Regions from separate parts of the Homo sapiens genome. Here region 1 is linked to region 2. The links come from fine-mapping of genetic effects on gene expression. A gene starts in region 2. The other region holds a variant in brackets. All regions are shown on one strand. Distances are between the middles of the regions. Region 1 overlaps TAOK2 (TAO kinase 2). Region 2 holds the start of GDPD3 (glycerophosphodiester phosphodiesterase domain containing 3).

Region 1 (5,358 bases), 130 kb before region 2:
CTATAAGCGGATGCGACGACAGCACCAGAAGCAGCTGCTGGCCCTGGAGTCACGGCTGAGGGGTGAACGGGAGGAGCACAGTGCACGGCTGCAGCGGGAGCTTGAGGCGCAGCGGGCTGGCTTTGGGGCAGAGGCAGAAAAGCTGGCCCGGCGGCACCAGGCCATAGGTGAGAAGGAGGCACGAGCTGCCCAGGCCGAGGAGCGGAAGTTCCAGCAGCACATCCTTGGGCAGCAGAAGAAGGAGCTGGCTGCCCTGCTGGAGGCACAGAAGCGGACCTACAAACTTCGCAAGGAACAGCTGAAGGAGGTGAGCTAGGGCTGCTTGGGGGCGGAGCCGATGGCGAGCCAGGTGGGTCCTGACCCTGCTTCCCTCTGCACTCGCCCAGGAGCTCCAGGAGAACCCCAGCACTCCCAAGCGGGAGAAGGCCGAGTGGCTGCTGCGGCAGAAGGAGCAGCTCCAGCAGTGCCAGGCGGAGGAGGAAGCAGGGCTGCTGCGGCGGCAGCGCCAGTACTTTGAGCTGCAGTGTCGCCAGTACAAGCGCAAGATGTTGCTGGCTCGGCACAGCCTGGACCAGGACCTGCTGCGGGAGGTAGGCATCCCAATCTCTGTTCCCCTCCCGCTCACTCGTGGATCCCAGGGACCCACCCTTTTCCATTTTCCTCATTCTTGTCTTCTTTCTCCTTGGCCCTCGAGTGTTACAGTTCAGCTTTGCTTCAGTGCCCCTTTTACTTCTCATCCCCAACAGACCCTGCCAGAATTTCCTTAGGCCTCTTTTCCCAGGCCAGGGAGGAGCTTGCCTCCCCTACACCCTCATCTCCTGCCATCCCCAGCTCCCTCTGCCAAGGAGCCCTGGCCCCTCACTTCCTTGATACTGACCAGGCCCTGGGCCCTGTGTTTCTTCCGCCATCCCCAGCTCCCTCTGCCAAGGAGCCCTGGCCTCTCACTTCCTTGATACTGACCAGGCCCCGGGCCCTGCATTTCTTCTGCCTCAGGACCTGAACAAGAAGCAGACCCAGAAGGACTTGGAGTGTGCACTGCTGCTTCGGCAGCACGAGGCCACGCGGGAGCTGGAGCTGCGGCAGCTCCAGGCCGTGCAGCGCACGCGGGCTGAGCTCACCCGCCTGCAGCACCAGACGGAGCTGGGCAACCAGCTGGAGTACAACAAGCGGCGTGAGCAAGAGTTGCGGCAGAAGCATGCGGCCCAGGTTCGCCAGCAGCCCAAGAGCCTCAAAGTACGTGCAGGCCAGCGCCCCCCGGGCCTTCCACTCCCCATTCCTGGGGCTCTGGGCCCACCCAACACAGGCACCCCTATAGAACAGCAGCCCTGCTCACCTGGCCAGGAGGCAGTCCTGGACCAAAGAATGCTTGGCGAGGAGGAGGAAGCAGTTGGAGAGAGAAGGATTCTGGGAAAGGAAGGGGCCACTTTGGAGCCCAAGCAGCAGAGGATTCTGGGGGAAGAATCAGGAGCCCCTAGTCCCAGTCCACAAAAACATGGGAGCCTGGTTGATGAGGAAGTTTGGGGTCTGCCTGAGGAGATAGAGGAGCTTAGGGTGCCCTCCCTTGTACCCCAGGAGAGGAGCATTGTTGGCCAGGAGGAGGCTGGGACATGGAGCTTGTGGGGGAAGGAGGATGAGAGTCTTCTGGATGAGGAGTTTGAGCTTGGCTGGGTCCAGGGCCCAGCACTGACTCCCGTCCCTGAGGAGGAGGAAGAAGAGGAAGAGGGGGCTCCGATTGGGACCCCTAGGGATCCTGGAGATGGTTGTCCTTCCCCCGACATCCCTCCTGAACCCCCTCCAACACACCTGAGGCCCTGCCCTGCCAGCCAGCTCCCTGGACTCCTGTCCCATGGCCTCCTGGCCGGCCTCTCCTTTGCAGTGGGGTCCTCCTCTGGCCTCCTGCCCCTCCTGCTGCTGCTGCTGCTTCCATTGCTGGCAGCCCAGGGTGGGGGTGGCCTGCAGGCAGCGCTGCTGGCCCTTGAGGTGGGGCTGGTGGGTCTGGGGGCCTCCTACCTGCTCCTTTGTACAGCCCTGCACCTGCCCTCCAGTCTTTTCCTACTCCTGGCCCAGGGTACCGCACTGGGGGCCGTCCTGGGCCTGAGCTGGCGCCGAGGCCTCATGGGTGTTCCCCTGGGCCTTGGAGCTGCCTGGCTCTTAGCTTGGCCAGGCCTAGCTCTACCTCTGGTGGCTATGGCAGCGGGGGGCAGATGGGTGCGGCAGCAGGGCCCCCGGGTGCGCCGGGGCATATCTCGACTCTGGTTGCGGGTTCTGCTGCGCCTGTCACCCATGGCCTTCCGGGCCCTGCAGGGCTGTGGGGCTGTGGGGGACCGGGGTCTGTTTGCACTGTACCCCAAAACCAACAAGGATGGCTTCCGCAGCCGCCTGCCCGTCCCTGGGCCCCGGCGGCGTAATCCCCGCACCACCCAACACCCATTAGCTCTGTTGGCAAGGGTCTGGGTCCTGTGCAAGGGCTGGAACTGGCGTCTGGCACGGGCCAGCCAGGGTTTAGCATCCCACTTGCCCCCGTGGGCCATCCACACACTGGCCAGCTGGGGCCTGCTTCGGGGTGAACGGCCCACCCGAATCCCCCGGCTACTACCACGCAGCCAGCGCCAGCTAGGGCCCCCTGCCTCCCGCCAGCCACTGCCAGGGACTCTAGCCGGGCGGAGGTCACGCACCCGCCAGTCCCGGGCCCTGCCCCCCTGGAGGTAGCTGACTCCAGCCCTTCCAGCCCAAATCTAGAGCATTGAGCACTTTATCTCCCACGACTCAGTGAAGTTTCTCCAGTCCCTAGTCCTCTCTTTTCACCCACCTTCCTCAGTTTGCTCACTTACCCCAGGCCCAGCCCTTCGGACCTCTAGACAGGCAGCCTCCTCAGCTGTGGAGTCCAGCAGTCAC[T/G]CTGTGTTCTCCTGGCGCTCCTCCCCTAAGTTATTGCTGTTCGCCCGCTGTGTGTGCTCATCCTCACCCTCATTGACTCAGGCCTGGGGCCAGGGGTGGTGGAGGGTGGGAAGAGTCATGTTTTTTTTCTCCTCTTTGATTTTGTTTTTCTGTCTCCCTTCCAACCTGTCCCCTTCCCCCCACCAAAAAAAGAAAAAGACAAACACAAATAAAATATCTGAGCGGAACTGTGCCTTTGGCCCAGGCTGCCTCTGTCTGCTTTGTCCTGCCGCCTAGCCTCCCCGGTATGCCCCCAGGCTGACCCTCGGCCCGGCTCCATGACCTCTTCACCCCATCTCCGTTATCTCAGCCCCCTCACTCCTCCAGCCTCATGCTCTCTGCCTTCATAGCTTCATTGCACCATGACCACCACCGGCTCTGGGGTCTGGGCCCCTGTAGAACTTCACCGAACTTCTTGGTCCCACAGAGCGCCTGTTTGCGGGTTCCTTCCAGAGGTCTTAGTTTCCAGGCCCTTGGTCTCCTCATCCCTTGCCTTTTCTCCCAACCATGGCTGCAGGGGACCAAATTGCTCTCCTGCATCAGGCATTACCCTAGTGGGTTGGGGGACGGGGCTGCAGACCCTCCACAGTAGGGGGTGCTGAGCTGGGGGCAACCAGGCGGAGTATGAAGGCTGTGGCAGCAGGATTGAGTGTGGGCCTGGAGTGGGAGCTGAGTGTGTGAGGGGCCGGGCTGGAATGCGGATCTGGTCAGGGTGGTAGCTGCTGGCCGGTTGAACTTGTCAGGCCCTTTCTGGCCACCTCCTTTGCCCCTTTCTCCTCTGCGGCCCAAAATGGGGCAGCCCCTTCTTACCCATTTCTCAGCTCGGTGCTTCTCCTCCTTCCCTGCCTTCCTCCCTGAGCTGCTGGACCTGGGACTTCCTGTGTCTGTCCTTAGTCGTGTTGCTTTCTTCATGGGTGTTTTGTGTGACTGGTTCTTCTCGCTTGTTCTCGTGCACGTTCTCATATTTGCTCACGTGCTTCTGTCTCTAGGTCACAGTCTCTCCCTCTTTGCCTGGTCAGAGCTTCCAAGATCCTCAGTTCCCTGTCCAGTAACTCCGATGTTCTTTCTCGTGGGTATCGCACCCAACTCCGTGCACGTGCTCTTGGAACCTCTTGTCTTCTCTGCATCTCTTGCCCATCGAGACCTTCCTGATCTCTCTCAACACGATCCCACCTCTCCATGTCTGTCTGTCTGTATACAGCTCCCCCCACCCCCTCTGTCTAACATGTTTTCTGTTTCTCTCCCTCTCCCTGTCTCTGCTTCTGTCTCCTCTCCTCTTCTCTCTCTTCTCCCCATTTCCCCTGGTTGTTCCTCCTCTTCCTCTTCCTCCTCTTCCTCCTCCTCTTCCCCGCTGCCCCCATCTCCCCTTGATCCGTCCACTGCATAGTCTAAGGAGCTGCAGATCAAGAAGCAGTTCCAGGAGACGTGTAAGATCCAGACTCGGCAGTACAAGGCTCTGCGAGCACACTTGCTGGAGACCACGCCCAAAGCTCAGCACAAGAGCCTCCTTAAGCGGCTCAAGGAAGAGCAGACCCGCAAGCTGGCGATCTTGGCGGAGCAGTATGACCAGTCCATCTCAGAGATGCTCAGCTCACAGGCGGTGAGGCCTGGGGTCCAGGGAGGGAGTGCGCTAGAGGCCAGGCTCTGTACTTTGCTTTAGAGAAATGGACGGTGCAGGGCATGCACAGAGCTGGGGCTTTTTTACTTGGGAAACTCACATACTCTCCCTCTGTTCGTGTTCTCCACAATGATTTATTTCATATTCTCCTCAGTGGTTTTATTCTTTCTCTTAGTATTTTCTTAAGGTCTTGACAAAGCCATGTGCCTATTCCCAAGAACCACCAAGGAAAAGAGTGGCTATTATTTTTTTCCTGGGCCTGAGTTAGTTTAATGGGTAAACAGGGTGCAGATTAAAGTGAGTGTGGCCCTCAAGCCCATTTACTCAGACTTCTGGAGGATTTTGAAAGTTGCTGTTCTAAAAAAATGATCACACCTAACACTGGAATGGGCCACTTAAAATGTGCGGAGAGGGTGGAGAGTGGAAACGCCCCACCCAAGGCTGTTCTCTCACCCAGTCCCACCTCTCCCAGGTAACTTGTTAATAATTAACTGTATTTTGTGTTTTTTCAGTGCACATTTTGAAAAATTATATGAATTTTAAACACAGATGGAATCATACTTTACATTTACTTTCTGTAACTTCTTTTTTCCACTTAATATTTCTTGGACATCTTCCCCTGTCAGTACACCTGTCTCATTTTTTTTACAGCATAGAATTTTCCATGGTATGGCTGTACCATAATTTATTTAACCCATCCCTTATTGGTGGACATTTAGGTTGTTTCCAGTATTTTGCTATCACAACGCTTCCGTGAACACCTCGAGCACATGTGCAAGTATACCTGGGGGATAGATTCTGCAGTG
Region 2 (5,358 bases):
GCCACTGCACTGCAGCCTGGGCAACAGGGGAAGACTCCTCAAAAAACACAAAAAAAATCCGGTATAAAAAGGTGGTACACAAATATCATTGATCTCTTTGTAGCAAGGTATTGTGGGGGCTGAGTGGGACTTCCTTCTGGACAACAGAGGGGAGCAGAGAGCTCTGGGACTACCACAGAGAAGCTGTCAGAAAGCAAAGGGAGACCGGGCCCAGGGGCTCAGGTATGTAATCCCAGCACTTTGGGAGACCAAGGTGGGAGGCTCGCTTGAGCTGAGGAGTTCAAGAGCAGCCTGGTCAACATAGTGAGACCTTGTCTCTACAAATAATTTAACAATTAGCCAGGTGCAGTGTTGCACGCCTATACTCCCAGCTACTTAGGAGGCTGAGGCAGGAGGATCTCCTGAGCCCAGGAGGTCGAGGCGCAGTGAGTCATGATCTGGCCACTGCATTCCAGCCCGAGCAAGACTGTCTCAAAAAAAAAAAAAAAATTGTAAAGCAAAGGGAGGGACTAGGCTTAAGTGCCAGCGAAGTATCCAAATTCCTGATCCTTTCCCCAGCTGTTACTTTGTTAACCCCTGCCTTCCTGCAGAACACTGACTTGGCCTTTTCCTGCTGAGGGTCTGAGACAGCCGTGCTATAATTAATGAACGAATGTCTCCCCAGCCAGACTGTAAGCTCACCAAGGACCTCTCCCCACCCTCACTGGTCTCATTTACACATTATAACTGCACCTGGGACAGAGTAGACATTCAATAAAATATGCTAGATGGCCTGAGATGGATAAATTACCTCTCTATCCTAAAACTCCACATATGCACAGAATTTCAGGGTGTTCACAGTTCCCTTAGTATTCATGAATGCTGGGTAAGAACCACTGTCCTTAAAAGACCTTGGGGGTTATCTCTGAGGGGAGCTGGGGAGCTGGGAAGATCTGGGCTCCTTCTCCACGGAGACCCTAAGCAGTGGGGAGTTTTTCTGAGGTCCGCCCCCCACTGGTACCTGTTGATGATGTTGGGCAGGAAGCAGAAGAAGAACTTCTCAGGGATTGGGATGAAGGGCAGCAGCCCCAGGTAGTAGGAAAGCAGCACCCAGAATCCTCGGCTTATTGTGAAGGACAGGGGCATCTCGGGGTTCTGGGGAGGCAAGGAGAGGCATGAGAATCTGTCTGCTCTGGGGAAGCAGAGAGGAGGCATGAGCTGCAGGGGAGCCGTGGTGGGCATTCCAGAGGCCCTACTACCTGCAGGATCCAAGTCACATCTTGGGGCTGGGTGTGGTGGCTCACGCCTGTAACCTCAGCAGTTTGGGAGGCTGAGGCAGGTGGATCACCTGAGATCAGGAGTTCAAGACCAGCCTGGCTAACATGGTAAAACCCCATCTCTACTAAAAATACAAAAATTAGCTGGGCGTGGTGGCGTGCACCTGTAATCCCAGCTACTCGGGAGGCTGAAGCATGAGAATCGCTTGAACCCAGGAGGCAGAGGTTGCAGTGAGCCGAGGTCGCACCACCGCACTCCAGCCTGGGCGACAGAGAGAGACTGTGTTTCAAAAAAGAAAAAAAACAAAAGTCACATCTTGGCTCTGTGTTCGAGGCCTGAGTTCACACCCTTTTCATTGCCACCGCCACGCCACTGGGAACTCTCCCAGACCCCTCTAGCTCGGGTCCCCATGCTGGGTGGGCTCCAGCTCTGGGGAGGAGGGGCCCCTGGAGGAGGAAGAGGACGGGGGAGGGGTGGGGGGACTCACGGCAGCCTTGCATTTCTTCATGACCGAGCTCTTCTCCGAGGCCCAGATGGTGATTTCATTACGGTCATAGCGTCTCACCAAGCCTGCTATCTGGGAGGAGGAGAAGGAGGTGAAGGGAGAGCCAGGCCTCTCTCACGCCCCCGGTGGCCGCCCTAGCCCTGCCTGCAGCACCACCTCACGGATGAGCTCTTCGTTCTTCCCTTTGATCTCTACGCTCATGGGTGTCCTTGGAAACCTCTGGAACAGGTCCTCCAGACGAACCATGCGCCGGTCTGACCCGTGAGCAAAGTGGCCTGGGGGTGGTGTGGGAAAAGGGGTCAGAGGGAAGCCAAGGCGGAGGTCCAAGGAAGGCAGGCATGGCCCAGGCAGGGCTCGAAGCCCTTGCTCTCACCTGGAGAGAAGTAAACCTCCAGCTTCTCCTTGTAGAGGGGCAGGTCCTGGGGAGGACAGGAAGGATGTCACTAGAGGCCCGCATTGGGCATGGTGACTCTCAGGGTGGGGGTTGGGGTGTCAGGGCAGGGCCCACCTCGAAGTCCAGGCTGCCCACATCCCTGTTTAGGCCCGACTGGCGGCACAGGTTCTCATCATGTGACACCACCACCACTCTGTCCCGTGTCAGCTGACAGTCGAGCTCCAGGAGGTCCGAGCGCTGGGCCATGGAGCTGTGGGGGTGAAGGTCAGCGGGGGGCAGGGGCAGGGGACTGGGATGAGGGGCATGGTGGCTGGGAGGTGGCCGGGAATGTGAGAGCGGAGTTCGTGGCGGGATGTGCAGGCCACCTCCAGGGGGCGCCAGTCACCCAGCTAGGAAGTGAATGGCGTCCCTTGCTGTGATGCAGTCCACGACCTGCACACCCTCACATGGCAGCCTGGGCAGGGGCAGATACACTCACTTCTCCATGGCCTCCATGGTGTTCTCCAGCAGCTCTCCAGATCCTGTGGGGGGCACTGGAGTGGGCCTCTGGGGCTTGGGGTCTAGGGGCCTGGCCCAACCTCATCACCCACATTCCCTCTCTGGGCTCCATCCTCCCTCTGGCCTCACCTCCCCAGCCAGCCCAGGCTGCGCCAGCATCTTCTTCCTCGTCCACACCCTGCCCTGCCACTTCGCTCTCCTTCTCTCTTGGTCCCTGCCCCGTTTCTAGCATGCCCCCTTGGACCTACCCCTCTGTGCTGTCCACTTTGGCACCTGTTCTCACCCCTACCCGGCTCACCTCCTCGGTGGGCCCCCAGGCGGATGCGGAAGGTGGGAGCCCTGGGCGTGTGCAGCAGATGAGGCCGGCGCAGGAAGAAGATGGAGAGCATGGCATAGCTGCCCAGGGCAGGGAGGGCATAGTACAGCAAAAGGCTCATGACCGTACTCCCACAGAAGCTCCTGCAGCCACACGCTCAGCCGTCCGCGGGACTGTGCTGCCTGCCTAGCCAGTGTGGGCCGGCTCTACTACTGGCCACTGCCACGCCCCTGGGACCTGCTGAGCCTGCCGCTGGGCTGGCTTGGAGCCAGGCTGCAGGGTTCGGCTGAAGCTGGGGTAGTGTCAGGAGGTGAGGCAAGTAGCCCTGGCTCTCATATCCCCAGGCCCTTCCCAGCCCCCAGCAGCCCCGTCCTGGGCTACATGAGGGGAGTAAAAACCACCCAGGACTGTCAGGACCTCTCCCTCTCACTGGTACTTGTAGCCAGCGCATCCAACATGCCTACCCCTTGCCATTTCAGAGGATCCAGGGGTGTGTAGGGTGCTCCTGAGTCACCCCGAATCACCCCCAGCCAGTTAGACAGGAAGCCATTAGCGAGAGGACAGGACAGTGACTAAGGGGAAAACTGACCCCCTTCTTTCTAGGAGTCTGGAGCTCTCCAGAGCCCCGTCCCCAGCCCTGGGCAGCTGGGAGTGAAGGGCACCAGGCCCCTGAAAGCCCAAGTCAAGTCTGTCCTCAGAGCCGCACGGGGCAGGGCGGGGGCGTCGCGAACACAGACAGAGCCAGGGTCAGCCATAGACACATCTCTATATTTATATATTAGACGGGTCAGGGAGGTGGCAGGGGCGCCGGGCTCTCCACGCCCCCCAGCTCCACTTCTGCTCACCACACACAGAAGCAGCGAGGGCACGCGAAGTGACAGCTTTGACAGGGAGGGGATTCGGCCCGGCCTGGCTCCTCAGGGATGCTAGCCCTTGAGACTAAGGAATGTTCCTTCAGGGAAACTAGGGTGGGGTTTGAATGAGATGAGGGGGGCAGGCATGGCCCTGAGTCCCTACTCAGCGCCCCCCACCCTCCACCTCTGCCCTTCAGCAGGTTGGGGCAGCCAGAACCCTTCCATTCCAGAACTGCCAGAGACTGGGACGCTGGGGAAGGTAAGGGCGCAGCAGCAGCAGCGGGAGATTGAACTGGGGCCACCTGAGGTCCCGAGGCCCCGTGGGGAGGGCGGGTGGGGAGGAGAAGGCCTTGGCCTGCCTGAAGCTGGAGGCCTCAGCAAAGGAGAGAGGTGGCCAGGCCCATGCTCCACCCCGGCCTGGGCTGCCAAGGTCCGGGCTGGGCACAGTGTCCATTTTCTAACAGTCTGGCGGGAGAGGGGCAGGCAGGAGGCAGGTCCTAAAGAGAGAAGCAGGCAGAAGAGGAGTCGTTAGCACCCCCCGGGCAGACCCACTGGAGCCCTGACCTCAACATCTCTCATTTCACCCTCACAGCTGGATAGGCTGGGTCTCAGTTTCCTTATCTGTAAATGGAGATAATAATAGTACCTAGCTTGAGGTACTGCTGTAAGATTAAAGGAATTAATACATGTAAACCTCTTAGAACAATGCTTAGGGCTTTATGCTTTCATTATTAGAACTGTCTCGGCCGGGCACAGTGGCTCACGCCTATAATCCCAGCACTTTGAGAAGCTGAGGTGGTGGATCGCTTGAGCCCAGGAGTTTGAGACTGGCCTGGGCAACATAGCAAGACCCCAGCTCCACAAAAAAAAAAAAAAAAAATTAGCCGGTTGCAATGGCTCGTCCAGCTAGCTGGGAGGATCCCTTGCACCCAGGAGTTTTGAGGCTGCAGTGAGCTATGATTGCACCACTGCATTCCAGCCTGGGTGACAGAGCGAGACACTGTCTCAAAAAAACAAAACCAAAAAAAAAGATAAATAGATTGACTCCGGAAACTGAGGCGCCGAGAGGTGAGGTGCCTTGCCCAATATCACACAGCACTTACTAAGTGGCACAGCTGGAGTTTGAGCCCAGGTGCGCATGCCTTCTTTCTATCAGGCCACACCTGGCTGAAGACAGGAAGAGACCGGAGGAGGCAAGGAGGCAGCGTGGGTGGGGGCAGGCCAGTGGGGTCCCCACAGCTATGTGAACTGCTGATCTGGCAGCAGGTGTGAGGAGGCCTGGCAATCTGGGTCAGGCTGGGCGCTGCTGGGCCCCTCCCAAAGCAATCATGGCCCCACCTGCTTCTGCCACACCCAGAGCTGAAGCTTGGCTCAGGTCCTCACCTGGGTGACAGAGGCCCTCAGTGACCTCTTGCCTCTTTGCCAGTTCTGTTCCTAGAAGGAGATTAGAATGGCTTGTGGGGCTGGAGGATGCAAGGTGTTGACAGGCAGAGACATTTGGGGCTGGAGGACTCGGTGGGCCACCAGTCTGGGC

Evidence for each region. PIP is the estimated chance that this variant, and not a neighbour inherited with it, causes the effect.
Region 1: its variant is fine-mapped to the expression of GDPD3 in whole blood (TOPMed, PIP above 0.99).

Annotation. Positions count from the first base shown.
Region 1 is chr16:29,985,272-29,990,629 of GRCh38, forward strand. TAOK2 (TAO kinase 2) reads left to right here. Exons shown (of 16, transcript NM_016151.4): 14 at 1-307; 15 at 387-590; 16 at 994-3,122. The coding sequence ends at 2,709. Among named protein-coding and RNA genes, the nearest start is that of HIRIP3, 7.7 kb to the right of the region's middle. The variant T/G (reference allele first, on the strand shown) is at 2,896.
Region 2 is chr16:30,110,388-30,115,745 of GRCh38, forward strand. GDPD3 (glycerophosphodiester phosphodiesterase domain containing 3) reads right to left here and starts at 3,150. Exons shown (of 10, transcript NM_024307.3): 1 at 2,953-3,150; 2 at 2,635-2,677; 3 at 2,271-2,406; 4 at 2,136-2,181; 5 at 1,919-2,037; 6 at 1,745-1,834; 7 at 1,001-1,134. The coding sequence starts at 3,091. It overlaps MAPK3 (mitogen-activated protein kinase 3), which reads right to left. Exons shown (of 9, transcript NM_002746.3): 9 at 3,718-4,321. RefSeq lists a silencer at 3,121-3,415.